Linked DNA regions of Homo sapiens: region 2 is linked to region 1. The links come from fine-mapping of genetic effects on gene expression. A gene starts in region 1. The other region holds a variant in brackets. All regions are shown on one strand. Distances are from middle to middle.

The links. PIP is the estimated chance that this variant, and not a neighbour inherited with it, causes the effect. A credible set is the group of variants that fine-mapping cannot tell apart.
Region 2: its variant is the best candidate, but not a certain one, in a credible set for the expression of CCR7 in whole blood (TOPMed, PIP 0.60).

Annotation. Positions count from the first base shown.
Region 1 is chr17:40,563,036-40,568,414 of GRCh38, reverse strand. CCR7 (C-C motif chemokine receptor 7) reads left to right here and starts at 2,943. Exons shown (of 3, transcript NM_001838.4): 1 at 2,943-3,015. The coding sequence starts at 3,006. RefSeq lists an enhancer at 3,388-4,304.
Region 2 is chr17:40,598,983-40,604,361 of GRCh38, reverse strand. No RefSeq gene overlaps it. Among named protein-coding and RNA genes, the nearest start is that of CCR7, 36 kb to the right of the region's middle. RefSeq lists enhancers at 1,366-1,625, 4,964-5,263. The variant C/T (reference allele first, on the strand shown) is at 2,855.

The sequences.
Region 1 (5,379 bases):
ATCATTCCCCAGGTTTGCACATTCACTCACCACTTCCCTGGTGGGGGGAGGGGAGGGGGTTTCCTTTGGGTCTGTGTTGCTCCTATGTAGGCCATTGCCCTGCCCTGCTTTCCTCTATCCTCTGTGGGTCGAGCTGATTCCTTAATCAGTCCCAATGCAAGTATCTGGATGTTTCAGATAAAGGTTTTGAAGTACCCACCCCTTTGTTCCTCTCTGAGAGAGCCATGCCCCATACCTGCTTCTAGTTGGCCATCTTTGAAAATAAAATTAAGAAAACAATTTCATTTACAAGCACATCAAAAAGAGTAAAATACTTAAGAAAAAATTTAACAAAGAAGTGAAAGACTTGCAGCCTAAAAAGTATAAAGAAATTAAGGAAGACCTAAATAAATGAAAAAAATCCCATGTTCATGGACCAAAAGACTTTGTTAGAATGGCAATACTCCCTAAATTGATTTACAGATTCAATGAAATTCCTATTAGAATCCCAGCTGGTTTCATTGCAGAAATTGATAACCTAAAATTCATATGGAAAAGAGAGAGATGCAGATTAGTCAAACAATGTTTAAAAAGACAGATAAAGTTGGAGCAGTCACAACTCCCAATTTCAAAATTTGCTATAAAGCTACAGTAATCGAGACAGTGTGGTACTGTCATAGGACAGACACAGAGATTGATAAAATAGAATTGATAGTCTAGAAATAAACCATTACATTTATGATGAATTGATTTCCAACAGAGGTGCTAAGACAGTTCAATGGTGGAAAAAATAGTCTTTTCAACAAATGATGCTGGGAAAACTAGATATCCATATAAAAAATGAAGCTGGATCCCTACCTCACACCATATGCAACAATTAGCTCAAAATGGATCAGATCTAAATGTTGCAGCTAAAACTATAAAAGTCTTAAAAGAACATATACGAATAAATCTTTGTATACTTGAATTATGCAATGGTTTCTTAGATATGGCACCAAAGACACAATTGACAAAAGAAAAATAAATCAATTGAACCTCCACATTTAAAACTTTGCGCTTCTTTTGCCAGAGATTCAGGTTTTAAAAAACAAAAAGCCTTTGTGCTTCAAAGGACGCTATCAAGAAAGTGAAAAGATGATCCATAGTAAGGGAGAAAATATTTACAGATATGTATCAGATAAGGGATTGTAACCAGAATATATAAAGAAGTCTTACAACTCAATAATAAAAAATAAATAACCCAATTTTTTAAATGGGCAAAGGATTTGAATAGAAATTTCTCAAAAAATAATACAAATGGTCAATAAGAGCATGAAAAGATGCTCAGCATAGGTAGTCATTAGGAAAACGCATATCAAAACTACAAAGAGGCCGGGCATGGTGGCTCATGCCTGCAATCCCAGCACTTTGGGAGGCCGAGGCTGGCAGATCACCTTAGGTTAGGAGTTTGAGACCAGCTTGGCCAACATGGTGAAACCCCGTTTCTACTAAAAATACAAAAATTAGCCAGGCATGGTGGCACGTGCCTGTAGTCCCAGCTACTTGGGAGGCTGAGGCAGGAGAATCACTTGAACCCAGGAGGTGGAGACTGCAGTAAGCCAAGATCGTGCCACTGCACTCCAGCCTGTGCAACAGAGTAAGACTCCATCTCCAAAAAAAAAAAAGAAAAAAGAAAAAAAACACAATGAGATACCACTTTACAGCCACTAGGATGGCTAGAATCAAAAGAATGGACAATAGTAAGTTTTGTTGACAATGTGGAACCCTCACGCATTGTTGATGGGAACAAAATGGTGTAGTCACTTTGGAAAACAGTTTGATAGTTCGTCAAAATGTTAAATATATAATTACCATATGACTCAACAATTTCACTTCTAGGTATATACCCAAGAGAAATAAAGCATATGTCCACACAAACACTTGCACATAAATATTTATAGCAGCATCATTCATAATAGCTAAAAGGGAAAACAGCCCAAACATCCAACTGATGACAGACAAACAAAATGTGGCATATCCATACAATGGAATGTTATTCAGCCATAAAAAGGAATGGGGAATGGATCCATACCACCACATAGGTAACCTTGAAAACACTAACTGAAAGAAGCCAGATGTGAAGGTCACATATTGATACTTCTATTTATGTGAAATGTTCAGAATAGGAAAATCTATAGAGCCAGAAAGTAGATTTGTGGTTGCCAGGGGCTTTCGATGACAGGAGGGGAGGGGAGCAGTCATTGCTAGTGATTACAGGGTTCTTGAGAGGGAGTGAGAAAAAATGTTCTAAAATGTATTGTGGTGATGGTTGCATAACTCTGTGAACATACAAAAACCATTGAATTCTATACTTTAAAAAGGTAAATTTTATGGGATGTGGATTATAGCTCAATAAAGCTGTCATTAAGAAAGGAAAAGGAAGGGAGGGGAGAAGAGGGAAAGGGGAGGGAGGGGAGGGGAGGGGAAGGGGGGAGAAAAAAGATACATCGTGGCATATCTCTTCCCTTTTACCTGTCATTATGTGTCAGTGCCTCCCATTGGCCTAAACTACCCAGAAGCCAGAGGGAAAGCCATTTGGGACTATATTCCACTGTGACACTGAGCAGAGCAAGGGAAGGATGGGGACACTTCTCTCACACATCTCTGACTCCCCAACATCTAACCCATGGCCTGGCATGTGATATTCATGCTATAAATATTTGTTGAATCAGTAAATGGCCCCTCATCTAGATTCTGCCAGGCAGCGCAGGGGGCTTTTTGAATGTAAATGACCTAATGATTCAGGATCCTATGACCAGCGACTGTCACCCTCTGTCACCTTTCTTCTGCCCCTTTATCTCTGAAGGCATTGAAGGGGCCCTGCATGAGTCAGGGAGGGCTGGGGGGAGGAGCAAGGGTGGGAGGGGCAGGGAAGAGGGTGGCTTCTCCGACAACTTAAAAGGGGCTTGAACCACTTCCTCCCCAGACAGGGGTAGTGCGAGGCCGGGCACAGCCTTCCTGTGTGGTTTTACCGCCCAGAGAGCGTCATGGACCTGGGTGAGTGAGCCTCTTCATGTGAGAAGGAACAGTACCAGGGTCTTGGACACCCAGACTGACCCTGTGGAATGGGGGTGGAGGATGCGGGTGGAGCGCATAGGGGTGCTTCCTGGAGAAATCAGTTCTGATTTGGTGGGCATTGGAAGCTACTTCCAGAGAATGCCCCCTGCTGTCCCAGGAGGGGTGCACCTGCCCTTTCAGACCTGGAGAAGGGGTCAGCCTTTGGTGCCAGTGGGGACAAGGGAGGGGCCGAGATCATGTCTTTCTAAAACAGCAGGGACATAAGAGAGTGGCGGGGCTGGGCTTGGTGGTCTGGCAGAACCTGTTCTCATCATGAGGGTGATAGGTTAGGCCCTCTGGGACCTCTGGGGACAGGTTTCAACAGAGAAATTCTCCCTAGAGAGCTTAGGACCTTTTACCCACTCTCTGATTCCCACCTTTCTCCCCTGCCAAATATTCATATACCTGTCCACTTGGGGTCATGAGGAGATGCAAATGAAACGTGACTGGGTTGTGAGAATGGTGCGGTGCATTGCAAATGCAAGCTCTGGTTGCTTTCTCTCTGCTGCACATCCCACCTGCTTTGATCTGGCTTTGCTGTTGCCTCTTGCAAGTTAAGGAACGGGCAGGCAACATGGAATGGGATGGCAAGGGGCACTCAGCTTGGAGAAATCATAGCCAGGCCTTCAGCACAGCCCCTGCCCCTGAGCAAACCTCACGCACTCTGCCCCGGCAGATAACTCTACTCTTTAGAAAGCCCTTTCTCAGGTCTAACCTAGAAGGGGTCAAGGGGAAGCACTGAGGGTGTTCTGAGTGGTTCATCCAGCTCCAGACGCCCCCTTTATAAATCTCAGCTGTGGAGTCAGACCAGGCTGAGGCTAAGAAGACCAGGTTCCTAGATGGCTTGTCTCACCAGCAAACAATGCACCACGGCGGCCTCAAAGCCGCAAAGGGTTGGCTTTAAAAAGTGAAGGTTCCCTGGTGCTGTCCTCACACCCCTCCTCGCCACACCACAGCCTCCTTGATTTCATCTCTTACTTTCCCGCCTGCCCTGAACGCTGGATCTGGACCCAGCAAACAGCTGTGAAAGGGTTAAAGTGGTCACCCCACCCACTGACTGTGAACTCCTGAAAGGCAGGTTCAGGTGCTTTGAGGATGTGAGGAGAAAATGTCTGCGGAATGAATGAATACACCGTATCAAGAACTCCGTAGAGTTTAGTTTTTGAAAATCTCTTCCAAATGCCTCATTTCCCAGCCAATCTACCCTTAAATCCCACTCCCCTGCACCCCCTCCACCACCCCCCATCACAATCCCACAGTACAGACGTCACCCACAGAAGACCCTGCTCCAGCCTTTCATACTGGCCTCCAGGAAGGAAACCAAGCAGTGCCCAGTGGTGTGCTACTGGGCATTTGAAAAGCAGCTCCCCGGGGTGGAGCACTGGTAGCTGACTCCAGGGTGGAGGGAAAGTCCTGAATTTGTAGTGCTTGCCAATTTCCATGGTGTAAATTCTCCCACCCTGGCTGATTGATTTCAAGCCATCTACATGACTGAACAGGGGGTTGGGAAGATGTGCAGAGTGTCTTACCCCAGACTAGGTTTAGGGGTGCTAGACTCCTAGGCTTTGATGCAGGGAGAGAGGGTAATCTCTGGTCCAGGAAGAAGGGATATTCTTGCCACTTCACTCAACTTGAGAGAGCCCCAACGGTCAAACCCGAAATACTGGTAGGAGGGGAAGCCGCTGACAAGCTTTACTCAAAACGGGCTCTCTGGGCCGTTGATGGGGTGGGTGGGCCTTGGAGGATCTGTTGTTCTGCTCTTCATCTGCCCAGCAAGGAGCAAGAGGTGGGTGAGGAGGGAGGGTTTCTGTTACACAAAATGAAAACTCCCAAGCAGGGCTGAGCTGGCCTTTTTCACGGTTTGAATGAGCAGCTCTGAGGCACCCTCCCCACCTTCGAGCAATGAGACCGAAGATCTTTCATAATTCTCAAAAGCAAAGCAAGGAAAAAATGAACCCATGAGAGATGTGTGCCTCACAGCTCGGACATAAATGGTGGCAAAGGGGGATGCTGAAGCTAATTCAGGGCCAGTTTCTTGCCTGCCAGAAACTTGGCTGGGGAGGAGAGGAACGCTGCAGCCTGGGGTCGCTGTTGGAAAAAATCTCTCCTCTTTGCTTCGGACATTCAGGCAACTCTCATTGTTTGAGGGATTCAGGGATGACCAGTCTGGTGGGGAGAGTGACACATATGTCACAAAGCCACTGCAACAGAATAAGATACAGCATTGACCAGGGCAAGGGCAAGACAAGAAGGGAATAGTGAACCTGGGTCAGAGAGGTATTTAAGGTGGGTTTTCAAGGGTGT
Region 2 (5,379 bases), 36 kb before region 1:
AAGAACTTAGAAACAATGATGTTATTGGCAGATTGGCAGAAATAGGCAACTACAGCCAGCTACCAAAACAAGAACAGTAGCAGACTGAGTAGATTGGAGCTTGGATCCAACTTGCAAGTTCAAGGGAAGGGGACATTCAACACAGACTTGCTGCTACTCAAGGTGTGGTCCATGGACATCGCCTGGGAGCTTGTTGGAAATGTGGAATCTCAGACTCTATGCTAGACTTTCTGAATTCCACTCGAATTTTTACAAGACTCCTGTGCACTCTAAATTTTGATAAGCATTAGGCAGACTAATGGTTCTTTTTTTGTTTTGTTTTGTTTTTTGAGACGGGGTCTCACTCTGTCACCCAGGCTGGAGTGCAGTGGCACGGTCTCCGCTCACTGCAACCTCTGCTTCCTGGGTTCAAGTGATTCTCGTGCACAGGCATATGCCACCAAACCCGGCTAATTTTAGTATTTTTAGTAGAGACAGGGTTTCACCATGTTGGCCAGGCTGGTCTCGAACTGACCTCAGATGATCCGCCCGCCTCAGCCTCCCAAAATGCTGGGATTACAGGCGTGAGCCACCACACCTGGCCTGGGATCATCTGAAGAGCTTTTAAAAATGCTGATGCCCAGGGTGTATCCCAGAACAACTGGCATCATGTTGATTTTTGTAGCTCACCAGGTGATTCCAATATTCAGCCAGGGTTGAAAGCCATTCATCTAGACCAACCCTCCAATTTGCAGGTCAAGAAACTAAAGTCCAAAGGGGTAAACTGACCTGCCCAAGGTCACACAGCAAGGGAGTGATAGTGCCTGGGACCTGAGCTCCAGTGCTCCACCCCCAGGGCTCTCTTCACTGGACTTCACTGCAAAATGGGGCAAGGTGGAGCGGAGCACCAGCGTTTCCCTTCTGGCTTGGCTTCTTCACTGTTGGGTCCTCAGCTCAGATCCCAAAGAAGGAGCTTCCTAGATGCAGGTGGCCTTACGCCTTTGAATTCCCAGGTGGACTATGGCCATAGAGGCCTCACGCTCTCAGGCAGTAGGTGCCAGAAGCCTGGGGCCAGGTGGGACTCTGCTTCCTGACCGGTGGCCAGTCTCTAGGCTGGAACAGCCTCACACTCTCACCCAGCCAGCATGGGCCTGCCATTCTCACCCGCCCCCCACCATCTTCCCAGAGAGACGGAGCCCTCAGGGACTGTCCCACCACAATTCTCAGAACTCAGGTGAAGTTTCTGACCCCCCACAGCCGCAGCTCCCGACTCCTCTGAGAACTGCTGGGACAGGCCTGTTCTCAATCAGCAACCGCGACTGTCTTGAAACCATCAGAGGCTCCCTCATGACTTGTTTTCGCTCTCTTGTCAGGGTTTTGGGGGTGTGTGTGTCTCAAACCTCTGATTGTCTCTGCTTTGTGACTTTTTCTGGTGTGTTTTTGAAGTGGCTTTTTGTTATTCTGCCTCCACTCGCTCATCTTTCTCGGCAGCCGTGGAAAACACTCTCGGCCTGTTCTGCTCTCCACCGAGCACTTGGATCCCTTGTAAACAGCTTGCCTGGTGGCCTGGACCAGGCTGAACAGATAGGAAGGGCCTGGGCCTGTCAAGCCTTTGAAAATAAACATGCTGCACTGAGCTTCACCATGCTCAGGGAGGAGGATGGGGTAGACACGAGAAAGCAGAAAGAACTTTCTAGGCACAAGATTACTCTCCTGACGGCCGAGTGAGGTCTTTTCCACCGCCCTAAAACAGGCAAGAACAGAGGCCTGCCCCTTCCCTGAGCCTCAGGCCTGCTAGAAGGAGGGCACCCACCTGCAAAAGCCTTTCCTGAAAAAAAAAGAAAAAAATTTTTTTGAAACAGAATCTCACTTGGTTGCCCAGGCTGAAGCGCAAGCGGCATGATCATGGTTCACTACGGCCCTGACCTCCCCAGCTCAAGCGATCCTCTCACCCTAGCCTACCAAGTAGCTGGGACTACAGGTGCGTGCCACCATGCCTGACTAATTTTTTTTTTTTTTTGTAGAGATAGGGGTCTCACCATGTTGCTCAGGCTGGTCTCAAATGCCTGTGCTCAAGCAACCCTCCTGCCTCAGCCTCCCAAAGTGATGGGACTGCAGGCATGAGCCACCATGCCCAGCCCTCTCCTGAAATGTGAGAGGTAGATCTTAACTTGCACTGCCCAATATAGTGCCACTAACCACACATGTGACTACTGAGTGCTTAAAATGTGGCTACTTTGCGAGCATGGTGGCGGGTGCCTGTAGTCCCAGCTACTTGGGAGGCTGAGGCAGGAGAATTGTTTGAACCCGGGAGACAGAGGTTGCAGTGAGCCAAGATCGCACCATTGCACTCCAGCCTGAGTGACAGAGTGACACTCTGTCTCAAGAAAAAAAAAAGAAAAAAAAGAAAGAAAAAAGTGGCTACTTTGACTAAGGAACTGAATTTTTTATTTAGTGTTGCATAATTTAAATAGCCACGTGTGGCTAGTGGCTACTGTTAGACAGCACAACTCAAAAGCAGGGTTCTCAAACTAGGCTGCATATTAGAATCACCTGGGAGCTTTAAACCACTCTGACGCCTGCAGCCATCCCTGGTGACTTTGATTTATTGCCACTGGGTATGGGCAGAGCCAGAGTTCTGAAAGCCCCACGTGTGATTCTCACGCACAGCCAGTTTTGCAAAACTCTGGCCCAAAGGACTTCCCACAGCTTTTCCACCTCTGACATCCTACACGTTGATCTGGTCTCTACAGTTTTCAGAATTTAAGGAGCAAGGAATTTACTTAGAGAATCAACTCAAGATGCTGGAAAATGTTTTTCTATGTTCTAAATGTAATGCATGTTCGTTGTAACACATGGGAGAAAATTGAGAAAA[C/T]TCAGAGAAATGAACAGAAGAAAGTCAAAATCCCCTAAAATCCCACCACCTAGAGAAAAAGGGTTGAAACACTTAGACGTATATCCTTCAAGGCATTTTTCCATGGATAGAGCCTTATTTTCCTTCAAAATTGAAATCCTACTATGCTTCCTATTTTGTAATGTTTTTGTCACTTTACTTATTTGATTAACAAATATATCATCAATTGTAATGGCTACATGACATTCTATTGCATATAAACCACTATTTATCCAAATTCATATTAATATTGGCCCCATTTTTGCTATAATTTTTAAAAACATTGCTATGAAAAAATACAATGTCTTTATGAAAAGCCATTCACTAACTCCTTAGGAGAAAAGAAAAAAAAAAGAATTCAGTCAAAAGGCATAGAAAATTCTAAGACTTCTCCTAAATGTTTACCAAATGACTCTCCAGAAAAGTTGAACCAGTTCACATTCCCATCAACAGAGCATGAAAGCACCTATATTTATATGCATGTTGGCACTGGGGATTGAACTTTTCAAACTTAACAAGGTTCGAAAAAAAAATGTTTTCAACCACCAACAGGCAACCCTTCGTTTCAAAGTTCAGCACACCTTTAACGAGCACTGACTATGTGCCAGGTGTCACCTTAGGTGTTGGTGATAAAGATGAATGGAATGCATCCCTGCCCTCTAAGAACTCAAGAAAGGGGAGAATTAACAACTTGGCTTTAAGTCAAGGGAGGACAATATAGATGCTAAATAAAGGTACCAAAGTCACACTGGGAGCAGGAAAGAAAAGCCCACGATTCCTCACAGCAATGCTGGGAAGTCTGAAGGGGTGGCATTTGAGCTGGCTCTAGAAAGGTTGAGTCCAGGCGCTGGTGAGAGGTAGGAGGTGATGATATTTGGCAAACACCAAAAAATGCTGGAAGGCTCGGGGGATTGGAAAGTTATTGCTTCCACCCTCCAGTGGCTCCTATATTTATCAACCGTCTACGGTCAGGAAGCTTCTCCTTGAGTCTCTCCAACAGCCTCCTATTGCAGCTTAAACCCCTTCCTCTCGTTATCTATATAGTGGGAATGGGAGGCAGCTTGAATGCATTCTCCATAAATTCACCTCCAGAGACTTCTAGCCAAGGCAAACACCAAGCATGGTATGATATGTTTTCACTGATGAGTTGGTCCCTTTTGCATTATTTGCTCCTTCTATAAAAACAACATCGACTTGTAATGTCAATATGTCCATTTACCAGCCTGGGCAATATAATGAAACCCTGCCTCTACAAAAAATAAAAAAATTAGCCAGGTGTGGTGGCATGTGCTGGTAGTCCCAGCTACTTGGGAGGCTGAGGTGGGAGGATCAATTGAACATGGGAAGTCAGGGCTGCAGTGAGCTGTGCTCGTGCCACTGCACTCCAGCCTAGGTGACAAAGCAAGACCTTGTCTTAAAAAAATAGAGGTAGATAGATAATGTGTGTGTGTGTGTGTGTGTGTGTATAGTTTTTTGTTTTTTGTTTTTTTAAGTTGCAAAACTCAAGACCATAGGGCAAACATCAAGGTGACCTGAATTCCCCAGGCCGCTGGTCGTTAACCCAACTTTTCCCCCATTATTAGGATGGCCAATGCCAGCCCCATAGAGAGAAAGGGGCAGCCAGTTCAAATCCTGGCTCTTCTACTTAGGCCCTTGTGAATTCCCTTGGGTAAACTCACTTTTTCATCTCCCTGGGCCTATAAGACATGGATGGTATGAATAGTGAAAAGTTAGGTTTGGGGAGGTAAGGGAAGCCTTTTGTTAATAATAATAATAATCACCTGTGACTCCCATCCATGTGGGCTCACGTCAAGCGGGCCAGCCCCTTGCCTTCTCTTTTTGTGAGTCTCTGTGACCCACAAACACACACCCTTTCAACCGAGTCTGCCATGTATTTCAGGAATAACACATGTTCCGGAAGACGGCCTTTCTTGGGAAACTCACTGAAAAATGAATTAAGGGACTTGCCCAACTGTGTCTCGGGGCAGGAGGTAAGAAGGGCATGACAGCCACGGGACCTTTTCCACCCATTGACCGACACTCCCTCTTTCCCCAATTCTGCCCTACAACGTCAGAGACCGGATCAAATTTCCCTACTTGCTCTGTCTTCACCTCCCCTTTCTCCCCTGCTCTGTGACGCATGATGTCCCTGGAGAGTCCCCCACATCATCACAGAACAAAAACAAAAACAGCAGAGAAAAAATGCCAAACCTCGCTCCCCCTGCCCCCTCTACTATGAGTCGCCCACACGATGAGGGTGCTTGGTTTCAAATACTAGAAATGAGATGGCCTTTTTTTTCTTTTCACTTCTGCTATTTACACAGAAGTGCCTCGGTGCTAAACCCACCATAATTCAAGTTTATTTTTGGATTTCTCAGCTGTAGAAATCTACAGAATGCCAAAATGGGCTGAAGCAACTCTGTCAATAGGAGGAAGGAGAGGGTGGAAGGGAATGAATGTTGTCGAGAACCTGCTGCGGGCTGGGGCCTTACTGATGCGATTTCGTT